Regions from separate parts of the Homo sapiens genome. Here regions 2, 3 and 4 are each reported to be linked to region 1. Evidence: microRNA targets listed by miRTarBase, many of them from high-throughput screens and not tested one by one. Region 1 holds a microRNA gene; each other region holds the end of a gene's coding sequence.
Evidence for each region. Region 1 holds the annotated microRNA hsa-let-7d-5p (AGAGGUAGUAGGUUGCAUAGUU, at 2,123-2,144, shown strand). A microRNA usually pairs through its seed, bases 2 to 8, with sites in the 3' UTR of a target mRNA and lowers its output. Matches are read on the target gene's strand: a 7mer-m8 pairs with bases 2 to 8, a 7mer-A1 pairs with bases 2 to 7 and ends in A, and an 8mer does both.

Region 2: miRTarBase lists STX3 as a target of hsa-let-7d-5p. The part of its 3' UTR that is shown has no 7-base or 8-base seed match.
Region 3: the mRNA of PHACTR4 is a reported target of hsa-let-7d-5p. Seed matches in the 3' UTR shown: 7mer-m8 at 1,364-1,370 and 8mer at 3,579-3,586.
Region 4: the mRNA of GPR63 is a reported target of hsa-let-7d-5p. Seed matches in the 3' UTR shown: 7mer-m8 at 3,397-3,403.

Annotation. Positions count from the first base shown.
Region 1 is chr9:94,176,719-94,181,088 of GRCh38, forward strand. MIRLET7D (microRNA let-7d) reads left to right here and starts at 2,116; the gene lies at 2,116-2,202. It overlaps MIRLET7A1HG (miRlet-7a-1/let-7f-1/let-7d cluster host gene), which reads left to right. Exons shown (of 5, transcript NR_170278.1): 3 at 3,102-3,203. It overlaps LINC02603 (long intergenic non-protein coding RNA 2603), which reads right to left. Exons shown (of 3, transcript NR_160773.1): 3 at 1-1,013. RefSeq lists an enhancer at 2,527-2,576.
Region 2 is chr11:59,796,851-59,801,004 of GRCh38, forward strand. It overlaps STX3 (syntaxin 3), which reads left to right. Exons shown (of 11, transcript NM_004177.5): 10 at 433-546; 11 at 4,005-4,154. The coding sequence ends at 516. Among named protein-coding and RNA genes, the nearest start is that of MRPL16, 12 kb to the right of the region's middle.
Region 3 is chr1:28,495,668-28,499,821 of GRCh38, forward strand. It overlaps PHACTR4 (phosphatase and actin regulator 4), which reads left to right. Exons shown (of 14, transcript NM_001048183.3): 14 at 867-4,154. The coding sequence ends at 882. Among named protein-coding and RNA genes, the nearest start is that of SNHG3, 8.2 kb to the right of the region's middle.
Region 4 is chr6:96,795,215-96,799,368 of GRCh38, reverse strand. GPR63 (G protein-coupled receptor 63) reads left to right here. Exons shown (of 2, transcript NM_030784.4): 2 at 1-4,154. The coding sequence ends at 897. Among named protein-coding and RNA genes, the nearest start is that of GPR63, 40 kb to the left of the region's middle.

The DNA.
Region 1 (4,370 bases):
CACATGTCCAAGGTCAGGTCCTGGGTGGTAAAGGTAAATACAAATTGGAAGGGCACTGTGTGAGCCAAAATGAGTCAGATTAGTCATGATTCATTTCCAGTTTGGGTTTTGGGTGGTCTTGGAGAATGTTGTAAGCACTGCTTCATTGATAGGTTGATTGAGCCAGACTTTACTCAGCAGCCTGGAAAAGGAGAGATGGGCTCTGGGTTCTACCTTTGCTCACTGGTAAGTTGCTAAGATTTCAGCTTTGCCCTCAAACCCTGAAGTAGTCCTTCATTCACACAGTGGGATCACTCGAAAATGTCAGATGGGGAAGTCCATAGGTTGTTACTTTAAAGAAAATAGAAAAAATGCTGGAAAAGGTTTCTTCAATTTTAATACCCATGAAGGCCCATGTTTTAGCTTTCCTCCGATGGGCAAACCATACACTAACTTGGGCCTTGTAATCAACAAGCAAGGCTAAAAGCTCTCTAAGTGCTTGCTGTTTAAACTATTTTGTGTTGGAAGAAGAGTTGGAAAAGAGGCAGTGTGGAGGTGAGGGAGAAGTTCCCTCCCTCCAATCATTTCCAATAAATGGAAATTTAAGGAGAAATTTGTGTTTATCCTTAATATCTAAGATAATCACTGTGCAGTGCCATTGGTACTTTTCATGAGAGTAGAAACATCAAACTTCCTTGGATGGGCCCAACCCAGGTGACTTAACTCTGGACCAAATGTATGCTTTTTGTTTTATCCACTGTGGACAGCTGCATAGATAATTGGTCTTTGTTCTAAACTGCACATAAAAACATGGGAGAAAATGACATTTGTTGCCTTTTGATGTGCCAAAGAAGAGTGGGAATGTTCTAAGAATTCTTTTTGGCTTAATCTTTGTTGAATTGAAAATATGTATAACTCTTCTGCTGAAAGTGTAGCAAGTACAGTCATGAAATTTTGTGGTCTTCCTGACATGTTCTTCCAGCATAACGTTGCCACCTTCAGTTGGAAACGTATCCTTATCTAATAATTAAGCCCTGGAGAAAAATTAATTTATATATTTTATTAATTACATAAGGACATTGTTATTAGCTAAGCAGAGTAAGTAAATCGAAATAAAACTTTAAAAATGCCTTTATGGAGAGAATGACTATCTCTGAAAGCTTGTTTTTAATGATGATAAAATTCATGATCAGAATTTGTTTCTGTTTGCTTTAATTCAGGGGTCAAAAACTGAAATACCATCAGAGGCCCAGGAGGGGCTAGTTGTAACTGGCAAATATAGTAAATTAATTTGCTCTGGTTGATAGGTAGCAAGCAGGGTTTATATACATTGTCACCTACTTTTCCAGTTAACAGGAGAGACTGGAGATTTTATGAAATTTGATATTTAAATGTTGGTAACTGGGTTGGGCACCATGGCTCACACCTCTAATCCCAGCACTTCGGGAGGCTGAGGCGGGTGGAGCACCTGAGGTCAGGAGTTAAAGACCATCCTGACCAGCCTGGTGAAACACAGTCTCTAATAAAGATACAAAAATTAGGCCGGGTGTGGTGGCTCATGCCGGTAATCCCAGCACTTTGGGGAGGCCAAGGTGGGCGGATCACCTGAGTCAGGAGTTTGAGACCAGCCTGCCTAAATGGTGAAAACCTGTTTCTACTAAAAATACAAAAAAGTAGCTGGGCGTGGTGGTGGGCGCCTGTAATCCCAGCTACTCTGGGGGCTGAGGCAGGAGAATCACTTAAACCCAGGAGGCAGAGGTTGCAGTGAGCCGAGATCACACCACTGTACTCCAGCCTGGGTGACAGAGCGAGACTGTCCAAAAAAAAAATTGATAATTAAATGTTAAAAGTCAGCGACTCCAGTAATACGTGGTGGGCTGAGTATTAGACTACTGGCTTACATCCTCTGATGTCATTACTTTCTTGTTCGTTTGTGACTTGAGGTTGGATTTTAAGCAAATGTATTTGTGGCTTTTTACCAAGGTCATATGGCCAGATAACTTTTCAAAAGCATTAGTTAAAGAATTCTGATTAGTTTGAATTAGAAACAAAACTCAAAGAACATGACCTAATTTAACAGGTTAATTTGAAGTGCATCTGCCAAGTAGAAGACCAGCAAGAAAAAAAAAATGGGTTCCTAGGAAGAGGTAGTAGGTTGCATAGTTTTAGGGCAGGGATTTTGCCCACAAGGAGGTAACTATACGACCTGCTGCCTTTCTTAGGGCCTTATTATTCACCGATAACCTGTTTCCTTGCTACTTTGCTTTGGTGTAAGCAGAGTTCTTTCTGTAGGTTTTTTCAAATGAAAACATTGCAAGAATATCAAAGAGAGCAGTGTTTGCGTTAGTGATTATAAACTGCAGCATGGTGCTGACATTGATAACTGAAAGTCAACTAATGAGAATTTGAGACTTCTGAAGTACACTTAGTTGCTAGTGTCTCCCTTTTGGTGTCACTGGAAAGTTTAGAAAGCATGGTTTTGTTTTTGCTCAGGTTTCTCTTTCTGTGATGCAGAGACTCTCAGCTGTTCCTCCTCTATGTCTACATTATGTCTGAAGGAAAGAATTTAACAAAACTTGAAATACTGCTGTTTTTCTACAATGTTTGTAAATATTTATCTTGCTGCTTTTCTAGGTTTGTCTTCTGGATTTAAAATTTGGGGCGGCTGGGGTGGAATTGCATGGTTTGGGAATGGGTAATTGAGCTGCTGCTCATTATGGTATGTAACAGTGATTTGTCTGTTTAATATGTACAAGAACTGGAAGGTCAATAAAATGAAAGTGGTTGTCTTGACTGGGTAATAGTGTTACATATTTTGTTAAAAGTTATACATCTTTTCAATAAAAACACTGCATACTTCAAAACTAGTGCTTTTTAAGTCATCCTTAACCCTTATCCCCATCCTTGCAGTAGTAGATGCATTTTTCATTTGTAATTATTATGATTTGTTCTTAGTTTCATTTTTCATTAGCAATAATTTGGTGATTGGATGGTCATTTACAGATGTTTTAATAAAGCTAACACGAGCAATTTCCAGCTCTTCCATTTTTGTAAACACTTGTGTGACTTTGTACAGACAATTAACTGCTCAGGATCACCCTCCTTTTTGTTTTGTTTTTGAGATGGTCTCATTCCGTCACCCATGCTGGAGTGTAGTGAAATGATCACAGCTCACTGCAGCCTTGACCTCCCGGACTCAAGCTTCCTAGTAACTGGGACTACAGGTGCATACAACCATGCCTGGCTAATTTTATTTTTGTAGAGACGGTTTCACCATATTGCCCAGACTGGTCTTGAACTCCTGATTATCCTCTGGCTTTTACCTCCCAAAGTGCTGGCCAGGACAGCCTCCTTTCTTTACTTGAGTAATTATTTGAGTTTGCTCAGGCAGACACTACCTTGTAAAAACTCTTATGTCTCATTTCACTAGTCTAGTTTGAGCATTTATCATTCTAGGAATGAGACGAATTTGTGCATTAGCATTCCATCTTTTTCCAACTACTATGAACAGTAGTATTTTTTTTTATTTTATTTTATTTTTTGAGACAAAATCTCACTGTTTCCCAGGCTAGAGTGCAGTGGTGTGATCTCAGCTCACTGCTGCAACCTCCACCTCCTGGGTAGAGTAGACAGGATTTAGGTAATTTTTTGTATTTTTATTAGAGACAGGGTTTCACTATGTTGGCCAGGCTGGTCTTGAACTCCTGGCCTCAAGTGATCCACCGGCCGTGGCCTTCCAGAGTGCTGGGATTACAGGTGTGAACCACCCTTGCCTGATCATGAGCAGTAATACATTTAAAAGTCTCCAGGGGTGAGAAAGTTGAAAGGAAATTCAGTGGAGTTTCCCATCCTGCCCCTCTGCTGCCTAGCCCCTTGCTCCAGTGGAAGGAAGAATCGTGATCTAGGGATGTTCTCATACTTGGGGCTTTAAATTTCCTTTATGAATTGAGATGGTTGGGTATGTTTTCTAAGGTACCTTACATGGTACAGTTCTTTAAAGTTGAAGATTTAAGTTGTGGCAAAATTGCATCAATTTCATGTGCACTGATTTAGGCGAAGATGCGTAGGAAAAGAGCAAGGAAATGAGGTGTGATAGGATTGGGGTAATTTCAAAATGAGTATTTCTGCCTGGCCTAGTGGTTCACGCCTGTAATCACAGCACTTTGGGAGGCCAAGGCAGGCAGATCCCCTGAGGTCAAGAGTTCGAGACCAGCCTGGCCAACATGATGAAACCCCATCTTACTAAAAAAAAGTAGCTGGCATGGTGGTGGGCTACTTGTGAGGCTGATGTAAGGAGAACCGCTTGAACCAGGGAGGTGGAGGTTGCAGTGACCAGAGATTACGCTATTGCACTCCAGCTTGGACGACAGAGCAAGACTGTCTTAAAAATG
Region 2 (4,154 bases), not on the chromosome of region 1:
CTATAATCCCAGAACTTTGGGAGGCCGAGGTGAGAGGATTGCTTGAGCCCAGGAATTTGAGACCAGACTGGGGAACATGGGAAGATCCTGTCTCTACAAAAATAAAGAAAATGAGCTGAGCATGGTGGTGCATGCCTGTAGTCCTATGTACTCAGGAGGCTGAGGCAGGAGGATCACTTGAGCCCAGGAGGTCGAGGCTGCAGTGAGCCATGATCATGCCACTGCACTCTAGCCTGAGTGATAGAGAAAAACCCTGTCTTAAAAATAAATGAAGTATCCTAGAAGGATGTCTGTATGTAGAGATGTAGGCCTCTTACTCAGACTGGTAAGATATTTTCTATGTAGAGGTGACAGGGGTTAGGTTTTGGATGAGTTGTTATTTTTTTGGTTGTTTGTAATAATGATTTGTTTTTGTCTTATTCCTCTCTCCAGAAATTGATAATTATCATTGTGCTAGTAGTTGTGTTGCTGGGCATTTTAGCATTGATTATTGGACTTTCCGTTGGGCTGAATTAAGAGTGGCCTAAGAGGCTGCTGCACTGAAATGTAAGTAAACGAGTGGTTCTTGGGGACTCTGGATTTGGCTCCTCAAGAGGAAATTAGCTTGGGATTTCAAATTCCTCTTCTTTCCCCCTATGATTGTCCTTGGACACACTGAGCTTTCTAAAACTTTCAGTAGCCTGTGGATTCTTTATCTCCTTATAGTTCTATTGGTTTCTGGCTGCAGTACGTGGATGAGCTCTCCGTTTGTTCTTATCCTGTAGATTCTGTCCCCAATCTCTGTCTTGTCGTATTACCACTTCTCCCAGCATACCTGAGCACCCCAGGTGACTCCCCTTACTCAGGAAGCATGCTTCTAAGTTGGGTACATCTCTGTCTTGGATCTGGAGTCTGTCTTCTGAATTCTTACTGATTTTCATGGATGTTGGGCTTTACTTTCTGTATCCTTTTCAATGTAAATGAAACTCTGAATTGGGATTTGGATCTGCAGAGTTTTCTCTGTTGCTGAGTGGTTGGGTCTTAAATGATGATAGTTAACACACTTTTGAGTGTTGTGTTGTACCAGACAATGTACTAAACACCTTATACACATATCATTGAATCCTTACAACATCCTTTGAGACAGATACAGTGTTATGCACATTTTACAGACAAAGAAACTCAGTCAAAGAGAATGTTGAATAACAGGGCCAAGTTCACACAGCTAATAGTGGACCTAGCTTCTCTTTGTAAAAGAAGGTAGCCACTTATCATTAACTATAAAGCCTGGAGAACCTTAGAGGATAGCGATGCTAAAATTTAGACTATTCATTTTCTTGAAAATTTGTTAAAAGTGATAGACTTACCACTGAATCACTGGTTTTTTTTTTTTTTTGAGACGGAGTCTTGCTCTATCTCCCAGCCTGGGGTGCAGTGGCATGATCTCGGCTCACTGCAACCTCCGCCTCCTGGATTCAAGCAATTCTCCTGCCTCAGCCTCCTGAGTAGCTGGGATTACAGGCACATGCCACAGCGCCTAGCTAATTTTTGTATTATTAGTAGAGATGGGGTTTTGCCATGTTGGCCAGAATGCCTTGAACTCCTGACCTCAGGTGATTTGCCCGCCTAAGCTGGGATTACAGGCGTGAGCCACTGCGCCCGGCCTGAATCAAAACAAACAAAAAACGTTTTTGTTGTTGTTGTTTTTTGTTTGTTTCTCATTCTTGTCCCCCAGGCTGGAGTGCAGTGGCGCGATCTCAGCTCACTGCAGCCTCCGCCTCCTGGGTTCAAGCGATTCTCCTGCCTCAGCCTCCCGAGTAGCTGGGATTATAGGTGCCTGCCACCACGCCCGGCTAATTTTTGTATTTTTAGTAGAGACGAGGTTTCACCATGTTGGCCATGCTGGTCTCCTGACCTCAGGTGATCCACCCGCCTCGGCCTCCCAAAGTGCTAGGATTACAGGCGTGAGCCACTGCACCCGGCCTGAATCACGTTTAATAGTAGTGAGCATATCAATCTGGTTATTGGGACTATTAAGACTTTTGTGACTTTAAAACAAACAATTTTTTTTTGTTGTTGAGATTGTGTGTTGCTCTGTCGCCCAGGCTGGAGCGCAGTGGTGCGATCTTAGCTCACTGCAACCTCTGCCTCCCAGGCTCAAGTGATCCTTCCGCCTCAGCCTTCTGAGTAGCTGGGACTATAGGTGTACACCAACACGCCAAGATAACTTTTATATTTTTTGTAGAGATGGAGTTTTGCCATGTCACCCAGGCTGGTCTTGAACTCCTGGACTCAAGCGATCCACTTGCCTTGGCCTCCCAAAGTGCTGGGATTACAGGCATGAGCCACTGCGCCCAGCCAGTGACTTTTAAAATATTTTTCTGAATAAAATATAGCATGCATTGTTAAAAAAAAACCTATAAAATACAGAAAACATAAAACTAATGAACTTTTAATATTATTGCTGATAACCTTGTGGCACGTTCACATACTCAGACATAGTTTTACATAGTTCAGACTATATTATCCAGTTTTGTACCCAGTTAGAAAATTATAAGCATCATTCCACAGCATTAAAATCTCTTTGTAAATCTAATTTTCAATATGAGATTGTGGCCATACTCTCAAATATTTAACATTTTCACAATGTTGGAGGTTTATGTTATTTTGCTGTAGCTAACAGTGTGACTAACCTTATTTAATATTTTTCTCATTTAAATTTTCTCTTTATTACCAACTCATATAAGTTGGAGTACTGAAATAACAGGTATAAACATTTTTAAGACTTGGCACATAATACCATGCCAGTACCCAGAGCTGTGCCTTCCTTTTATATTTGTTTCAGTGTGTCTCTTCTTATTCCTCCTCCTTCCATGTGACCAGGGGATCTAAAAGTCAGCTTATTACAGCATTGAGCATTCAACTTCATCTTGAAAGATAAGCAACAGTGAGATGAACAACCTCTCATAGACAGGTGGTTGGTTGATTTTTTTTTTCCCCTCTTTTTTCTGGCACTTGGAGTCTAGCCCTTGACTTTTTTGTATGTGAACTTTAAATTTTGGTTTGGCTCTGAACAATCTGATTGAAATAGATGTTGAAATTTTAAAAAGATATAAGAGTTGTTATTTTTCCATATCCTTGGATGAAAGATGATATGCAAATTTGTGGTGCCCCTTTCTATTCCTAATTCCAGGACTTCAGAAGGTATATGAATCATTTTTCAGGACGTAACTCCTCAAAGAGGAGCAGACTAATTAATATGTTGTTTTTGGTTGACTAACCCTATCTTTAACCTGCTAAATTGCTGAGCAGTTGTTAAGCTGCTTTTTTTGTAGTGTATTCCATGTTCCCTAACAAAGTCAAGACTGATTGTTGCCTAGGTCTGGACTCTCCTCTTCCTCCATGTCACCCAAGGGAGAGAGGTCTCTGAACAGGAGGGTAGACAGTGTGTTTATATTTCCTAGTAATGTGCCAGCTGCTTGCTCTAAGATCATAGTATCCTCATTTTACAGACGGGGAAAGAGCAATGAAGTTAAGGAACTTGCCCAAGACTACATAGCTCATAAGGTGGAGCAGCCATAATATGACCCCTGAACTTTTTCCATAGGCTTTTCATTGTGTCCTTCTGTTTTCTAAAAGAAAGGCAGCAGGGAGTTCATGAAGATCGAGAACCAGAAAGCAGCTCCTGCAGCCTGTCTTCAGGAGCGGTGTTGCTGTGGGACCTGCAGAGCAGGTGTTTTCACTAGGGATTGTCCCTTCCCACCACGTCCTTCCATGGGTGTGGACAGCCTGTGAGAAGGCTTATAAAAGGCCTAGAGGCTTTTCTATTTTTTTCCCCTCTCACAGTAGGGCTTTTTGTTCTTTGTACAGTGGGATATTTAACTCCAAGTTCTGTCCTGGGTTTGTCTATTTCATAGTGATTTCTGGTCTTTCCTCCCCACCTTCCAGGTTTGTGGCTGACTCCTTCTGTTGCCCTTTGCCTTCTTCCTGTGTACTGATCAGCTCCTCCTTTCCCTGCCTCCTAGAAACTGATTTCACTCCAGACTGGTGTGGCCACCCTTGTCTTCAGATGAGAATGGAGTCTGAATGGCCTTCCTGAGAGCGAGTGCGACCCGTTCCTTTGTTTCCTTGCAACCACCCTTGGACCTGACTCAGCTAACAATCTAGCCCTGGGG
Region 3 (4,154 bases), not on the chromosome of region 1:
GTGCAGTGGCATGATCGTGGCTCACTGCAGCCTCAACCTCTCATGTTCAAGCCATCCTCCCACCTCAGCCTCCTCAGTAGCTGTGACTACAGGCACAGGCCACCACACCTGGCTAACTTTTTGATCATTTGTAGAGACAGGGTCTCCGTATGTTGCCCAGGCTGCTCTCAAACTCCTGGTCTCAAATGATCTTCTCACCTTGGCCTCCCAAAGTGTTGGGATTGATTACAGGCATGAGCCACCGTGACTGGCCAAGGAAAGTTGTTTTTTATTTAAAGGGTAGACAGAGGAAAATGAACCAGGACAGCATACTGAGAAAGATCAATTGAAGAAGAGAGAAAATTATGGAAAAGATAGTGTTACAGAAGCCAAGAGAAGAGTTCTTTTTTTTTTTTTTTTTTTTTTTTGAGACGGAGTCTCGCTGTGTCACCCAGGCTGGAGTGCAGTGGCGCGATCTCGGCTCACTGCAAACTCCACCTCCCAGGTTCACGCCATTCTCCTGCCTCAGCCTCGCGAGTAGCTGGGACTACAGGTGCGCGCCACCACGCCCAGCTAATTTTTTGTATTTTTAGTAGAGACAGGGTTTCACCGTGTTAGCCAGGATGGTCTCAATCTCCTGACCTCTTGATCCGCCCGCCTCGGCCTCCCAAAGTGCTGGGATTACAGGTGTGAACCATTGCGCCCAGCCGAGAAGAGTTTTAAGAAGGAAGCAGATGAGGAGTATCAGATGCAACAGAAAGGTCAGGTCGAATTAGAGCAGAGGAAAGGCAGTGTTAATTAGGTATAACATTTCATTACTACTGATACATTAATAGCAAAGCAATGTACATCATGTGGTAACTTGTCTCTTTTTTAATCTCTTTTAGCTACCATCGTCCATGATGCCAAAGGTTGAGAGAGGAATCAACATGGCTGCTTTGCTGCTTCCTTCTCCAAAGTGACATATGGAGGGAACTTTAGCACTTCCCAGCACAGCCAGAATTGCATCCTCTGGGATCTTCTGAGGTGGACAGCACTTTGAATGTAGCATTTCACTGGAACAGAGTCTTATGTGCTGCACCGGGGGCAAAACAACACTTTGTCAGTGCTTTTGAACCTTTCAATATTGTAGCATGCTTGAGGAGTTTTTCCCTTACTGGCCACCAAAGTTCTGAACCACTTGCAGGTTCCAGGTTTTACTGGCTGCACCACACCCCTTCCCCTAGATGACTGCCTGTGCAGAGACACAGTTTGCACCATTAGCCTTACCTGCCCTGCCCTGATTGTGAGACCCAAATGTGTAGGCTCTAAATTCCAGCCATCAAATCCAATTCCTGGTGGGGAAAACCTTCTGGAGACCCCCAACCTTCTGATAAAAGAGTCTCTACCTCCAGGGAAAGCCTTCTTACCACACTGGCATATCAGATGAAAGCATTGCACTGTACCTCTCGTAACACAGCAATACAGTCCTCTTGAGGCACTCAAGCCTGAGAGGAAGCTCAGGATCTGACATGTTCTTCCTTTTCCTCACAAGTCATCATGATTTTTTATTTTAAAATAATCTGGAAGTAATGGGAACTTAGTTTTTCCTGAACTCCAACCAGAATCCAAATTGGTTAGATGAGGCCAGGCGCGGTGGCTCACGCCTGTAATCCCAGCACTTTGGGAGGCCGAGGTGGGTGGATCACCTGAGGTCAGGAGTTCAAGACCAGCCTGGCCAACATGGTGAAACCCCATCTCTACTAAAAATACAAAAATTAGCCAGGTGTGGTGGCGCCTGGTTGAGGCATGAGAATCGCTTGAACCCAGGAGGTGGAGGTTGCAGTGAGCCAAGATCATGCCTACTGCACTCCAGCCTGGGCAACAAAGTGGGACTCTGTCTTAAAAAAAAAAAAAAAAAAAAAATCGGTTAGATGAGAAAGCATGTATATTTTCTATATACAAAAACAAGAAAGGCGTTTTGAGCCCCTGTGCTCAGGCCCACTCCCACACTGTGGAGTGTACTTTCATTTTCAATAAATCCCCTTATTCCTTCCTTGCAAAAAAAAAAAAAAAAAAAGCCTTAGCCAGATTCAGTGGCTCACGCCTGTAATCCCAACACTTTGGGAGGCTGAGGCGGGTGGATCACCTGAGTTCAGGAGTTCAAGACCAGCCTGGCCAACATGGCAAAACCCTGTCTCTACTAAAAAGTAAAAAAAATTAGCCGGGCATGGTGGCTTGTGCCTTGTAGTCCCAGCCACTGGGGAGGCTGAGGCGGGAGAATTGCTTGAACCTGGGAGGTGGAGATTGCAGTGAGCCGAGATCGCGCCACTGCACTCCAGCCTGGGTGACAGAGCGAGACTCCGTCTCAAAAAAAAAAAAAAAGCCTTAATATTAATGCTAACGTGGCAGAAAACTAGCAGGTTACATTTTATAGGCTATTGTAGTTTTATTTACCAAATGATATTCTCTAAATCACTTCGACCAATAAATGTATTCTCCTCCTTAAAGCAGAGTTGTATCAACTCTGTGGGAGCATTTATGAGCTGTCAGTCCCCACACTTCTAGCCAGAATCACAATAAGGTCTGGCTGGGTGTGGGGTGCTGCATAGGAAAGGGTCTCTGGAGAAGCAAGAAGGGCACAATCATGGCCCACTGCTCCCCTCTTCTTCTCAGTGCTCTTTGCCCTCTCCTGCTGCGTGCTTCCTCTTCACTCCAGTGCTGATCCTCCTGCTCTCTCTGGCAGCTTCCACCTCACCCGCCCCTCTTCCACACTATAACCAGTATGGTTGGTGCTGGGGCATTGACTCAGCCCCCCTGCTTTCTGCATTTGTAATAGATATTAATATGATTTCCTAAAACAGAAGATTTTGTTGCTTTCTTTGAACTTGTATTGAAAACCATACAGTCTCACTGTTTTGCTTTAATTCCTATCCACACTATAAATGGAAGAAAAAAATTAATAGCTTCTGTTTAATCTGATGAATGTGGCTTTTTTTCCCTTCACTTTAATGTTCAAGAAGTTGTGGCTATTTCATAGATTTCTTCTGATTTATTCTGTGGGTCCCTGTTATCTGTTCTTTATGTAATCTTTCAGTAGATTTTCATCCTTTCATATCCACATTCTTATGTGGACTTGCTGAAGAAACAGAATATCAGTTCAAAACAAAACCTAGGCCAGGCATGGTGGTTCACGCCTATAATCTCAGCACTTTGGGAAGCCAAGGCGGTCAGGAGTTTGAGACCAGCCTGACCAACATGATGAAACCCTGTCTCTACTAAAAATACAAAAATTAGCCTGGCGTGGTGGCACGCATCTGTAATCCCAACTACTCAGGACGCTGAGGCAGGAGAGTCGCTTGAACCCAGGAGGCGGAGATTGCAGTGAGCCAAGATTGCACCACTGCACTCCAGCCTGGGCAACAGAGCGAGACTCCATCAAAAAAAAAAAAAAAAAAGAAGGAAGGAAGGAAAGCAAGCCCTGAATCCACATCTCCTTGAAGTTTTTTTTGTTTTATTTTGTTTTTGAGACAGAATTTTGCTCTTGTTGCCCAGGCCGGAGTGCAATGGTGCAATCTCAGCTCACTGCAACCTCCGCCTCCCGGGTTGAGGCGATTCTCCTACCTCAGCCTCCCAAGTAGCTAGGATTACAGGCATGAGCCACCACGCCTGGCTAATTTTATATTTCTAGTAGAGATGAGGTTTCTCCATGTTGGTCAGGCTGGTCTCAAACTCCCGACCTCAGGTGATCCACCCACCTCAGCCTCCCAAAGTGGTGGGATTACAGGCATGAGCCACCGTGCCGAGCCTTCCTTGAAGTTTTTTGTTTGGTTTTGATTTGTTTTGTTTTGTTTTGTTTTGTTTTGTTTTTGGAGATAGGGTCTCACTCTGTTACCCATGCTGGAGTGCAGTGGCACAATCTTGGCTCAGAGCAACCTCTGCCTCCCAGGCTCAAGCAATCCTCCCACTTCAGTCTAAGTAGCTGGGACTACAGGCACGTGCCACCAGGCCCAGCTAATTTTTGTGTTTTGTTAGAGATGAGGTTTTGCCATATTGCCCAGGCTCGTCTTGAACACCGGGGCTCAAGGAATCTGCCCATCTTCGCCTCCCAAAGTTCTGAGATAGCAGGTGTGAGTCATCATGCCCAGCCTCCTTGAAGTTTACTAACAATTGGGATAACTGAGGGAAGAGAAGTG
Region 4 (4,154 bases), not on the chromosome of region 1:
AGCCTAGCTTTTGCAGACATGTTGCTTGCAGTGCTGAACATGCCCTTTGCCCTGGTAACTATTCTTACTACCCGATGGATTTTTGGGAAATTCTTCTGTAGGGTATCTGCTATGTTTTTCTGGTTATTTGTGATAGAAGGAGTAGCCATCCTGCTCATCATTAGCATAGATAGGTTCCTTATTATAGTCCAGAGGCAGGATAAGCTAAACCCATATAGAGCTAAGGTTCTGATTGCAGTTTCTTGGGCAACTTCCTTTTGTGTAGCTTTTCCTTTAGCCGTAGGAAACCCCGACCTGCAGATACCTTCCCGAGCTCCCCAGTGTGTGTTTGGGTACACAACCAATCCAGGCTACCAGGCTTATGTGATTTTGATTTCTCTCATTTCTTTCTTCATACCCTTCCTGGTAATACTGTACTCATTTATGGGCATACTCAACACCCTTCGGCACAATGCCTTGAGGATCCATAGCTACCCTGAAGGTATATGCCTCAGCCAGGCCAGCAAACTGGGTCTCATGAGTCTGCAGAGACCTTTCCAGATGAGCATTGACATGGGCTTTAAAACACGTGCCTTCACCACTATTTTGATTCTCTTTGCTGTCTTCATTGTCTGCTGGGCCCCATTCACCACTTACAGCCTTGTGGCAACATTCAGTAAGCACTTTTACTATCAGCACAACTTTTTTGAGATTAGCACCTGGCTACTGTGGCTCTGCTACCTCAAGTCTGCATTGAATCCGCTGATCTACTACTGGAGGATTAAGAAATTCCATGATGCTTGCCTGGACATGATGCCTAAGTCCTTCAAGTTTTTGCCGCAGCTCCCTGGTCACACAAAGCGACGGATACGTCCTAGTGCTGTCTATGTGTGTGGGGAACATCGGACGGTGGTGTGAATATTGGAACTGGCTGACATTTTGGGTGATGCTTGTTCTTTATTGACATTGAATTCTCTTTCTCATAGCCTCTCCACTTTATTTTTTTTTATAGGGTTTGTGTATGTATGTGTGTGAGCAGTGTAAAGAAAGAATGGTAATTATAGTTCTGTTACCAAGAATAAATAATAGGAAAGTGATTACAAATATTACCTCCAGGGTTCAATAGAAATCCTCAATTTAGGGTGAGGAGACTTTTTTTTGGTTTTGGGGTTTTTCCTTGATTGATTTTGTTTTCATAGTGGGAATCAGGATTGTGCTTTATTGAGCCTGCAGTTACATTGAATTGTAGGTGTTTCGTGTGCTGCTAAGGTATGCTTATTTGAGTTTATCAAGACTTTTTTTTTCTGGAAGACACTGCTGCTTTTACCATCACATTGGAGCCAAACATCTCAATCAATATATATTTAGTTTTATTTTAAAAACTAACCCAGGAAGGTTAGCGACATTTTAAGGGTCATTACTATTTACTTTGGTGCACTTTAAGAGATAATGTACAAATTAATTCAGTCTTATTTTTCAGAATTGTTTTTATACATGATATGTGCTTTAGGAAATGTGCATTATCATTTATGGGAAGATAGTTTTAAGAAATGTTTTATCTGCATGTACAGTTGTAAAAGAGAACATAAAATGTAGATACTTTTCTAAGCACAATAGCAACTCTTCAAGCAATAGCGCAAAATCTAGGAGACAGGATCCTTGCAAATTTAAAAGGTGAATGTAGTGAGGGGGATGGCAAGTGGCTGGTACAGGCTGTGGTGATTCCTTTTACTCAAGGGTTTTTGTGGAGTATAGGGAGAAGGGGTTGATATTTATGGACACCTATGTGTCAGGCACTGTGCATCATTTTATCCTTACAGGATGTTGTGAGGTAGGTATTATTGTTTTCATTTTTACAGGTGAAGAAAGCAGGTCTCAGAGGGACTAAAATCCTGCCCAAGGTTAGTGGTAGAGCTGGGATCCAAAAATCTGTCAGAATCCTGAGACTGCGCTGTTCCACTGTGCCACGCAGACAGTTCATTCAGTTTAGATGTCACATAGTCAAGAGGGAACTCTATGCATCCTTTAATTTTTTAGACTATGATATTCTTTTTAAAAATTAGCCTTTATTTTCTAACTACCAAAAGAAATATGAAAGCATTACAGAAACACTGGAAAATAGAAAAGAAAAAATAAAATCACTTACAACCACTTTTTGTTTTTTGGAGTCTCGCTTTGCCACCCAGGCTGGAGTGCAGTGGTGTGATCATGGCTCATTGTAGCCTCAACCTCCCAGGCTCAGGTAATCCTCCTGTCTCAGCCTCCTGAATAGCTGGAACCACACACACACACGCACACACAGGTGTGTGCCACCACACCCAGCTATTTTTTTGTATTTTCTTTTGTAAAGACAAGGTTTCACCATGTTGCCCAGGCTGGTCTCAGAGTCCTGAGCTCAAACGATCTGCCTGCCTTGGCCTCCCAAAATGTTGGGATTACAGGCATGAGCCACCACATCTGACCTACAACCACTTTTTAATGTGAGACTTAAAAATCTTAGATAAATAAGGCTGTGAAGCAAAACCAGTGATTTTTTTTTTTGTTTTTGATTTGCAAAACAAGTGACTGACAATTATTGAGAAATTAAAGATAGCTATGTGTAGGTCTTGCCCCTGCGGGTTTGGAGGTTTCCAGTTGTCCATCTGTGTTAGTTGTAAGTGTTCTGGGCAGAATAGTATTGTTGCCCCAATGCTTGCCCTAGCAGAGCTGGAGTTTGTGAACGTGCTCAGATGTGTGTCTCCTACAAAGAAGGGAAAATGAACCCTCGTCTGAGCCTAGAACAAGTTTTAATAGGGCATGTCTGACATTTCAAATTGTTTTTCTCTTGCTGACAGTCTGCCCCCAGGTGCATCTAGGGCCTTGGTCAGCTTCTCTGTTACCAGTGGCTCACTTTATAAAACAGCCCACAGGGATAAGGGCTGAAAATATAGCCACTTGGCTACATCATTGACTAATTAAGTAAGTTAACTGTGGATTTATAGCATCTTTTCAGGATGTTAGTGTTTTGTGAGCCAGTGGAAAAAATAAGCTTCTATTTCTTCATTTGTAAAACCAGAGAGTTGGATTAGATGAATCTCTAACGTCCTGTCCAGCTCAAATGTGCTTTCCTCTATACTAGGGTATAGATTTTTGAAGAGCCTAGCTGACTTCAGCATCACCTCACCCTTTGGTCTCCAGTATTACTTCTTTACATTTTACTTCATTAGCTATTTCTTAATATTAAATGTCTGAAGAGTGTGGCACTGTATCAGGAGTTGGGGCATTGAAAGGTTGAAGACATCATGAAATATCTGGGAAACTCTGCTCTTAAGGAAATTGCACCGATGTTGGAACTCATTGTCCAGTTAAAGAGCTCTTTGGGGACTCAAGCATATTATTCAACATGTTGTTTTGGGATTATCTTCAAATGATAGTCACCTACCTCTTTCATTTCTAATTTTTATTCACAGGTAAAATTGTTTTTGTCCATAGGGATTTTATAGGACATAAGCACTGTAGTAGATACTAGTAGCATTTTGAAGTGTATTATGCTCTCCATTTTCCATATAAACTAGATTTCAAGCAGATATTGATAAGGACATTTTTTATTAGACTTTTCTCTGAGGAAAGTCAGCATGATCTGTATTCATCTTACATATTGATAGGTCATGAAGACTCCTTTTTGGCTGGAGGTGAAACTGAGCTTTGTTTTCTTTGTTCCTGTTTTATGGGCAGTCTTTAGGTACTTTCATGCTGCTTAATAGGCAGTGCCTCATTTGGTGAGAGCTCTGGAGTGCCTGCCGAGACGCTCCCTGTTTGTGAACAAAGATTATGAAGGGGTCTTTGTGAGAATTCAGCAGCAACACTGAACAGCAGTTCTTTTTACACTGGATTATCTTGATCTGATGAGAGTTTACAAATCATTTTGAACATTTTTATTATGTATACATTGTGAAAGCTTTAAAAATAAGTACTATGGAGCACCTTTGAGAAACGTAGGTGCAAAATCATATGTTGCCTATTCCCCCATATTTTCTTGAGGCAGGGAAAGATACCACTACTAATTCTCACTGCTTACAGGCATAATCAGAAATGGTTTTTTGTTTGCCTGTTTTTCCTTCTGGCTAGTAAGAAGCGTAAAAGAGATAATGAAATATTTGTGGTCAAAAGAAAGATGCAAGGGAAATTCCAAATAG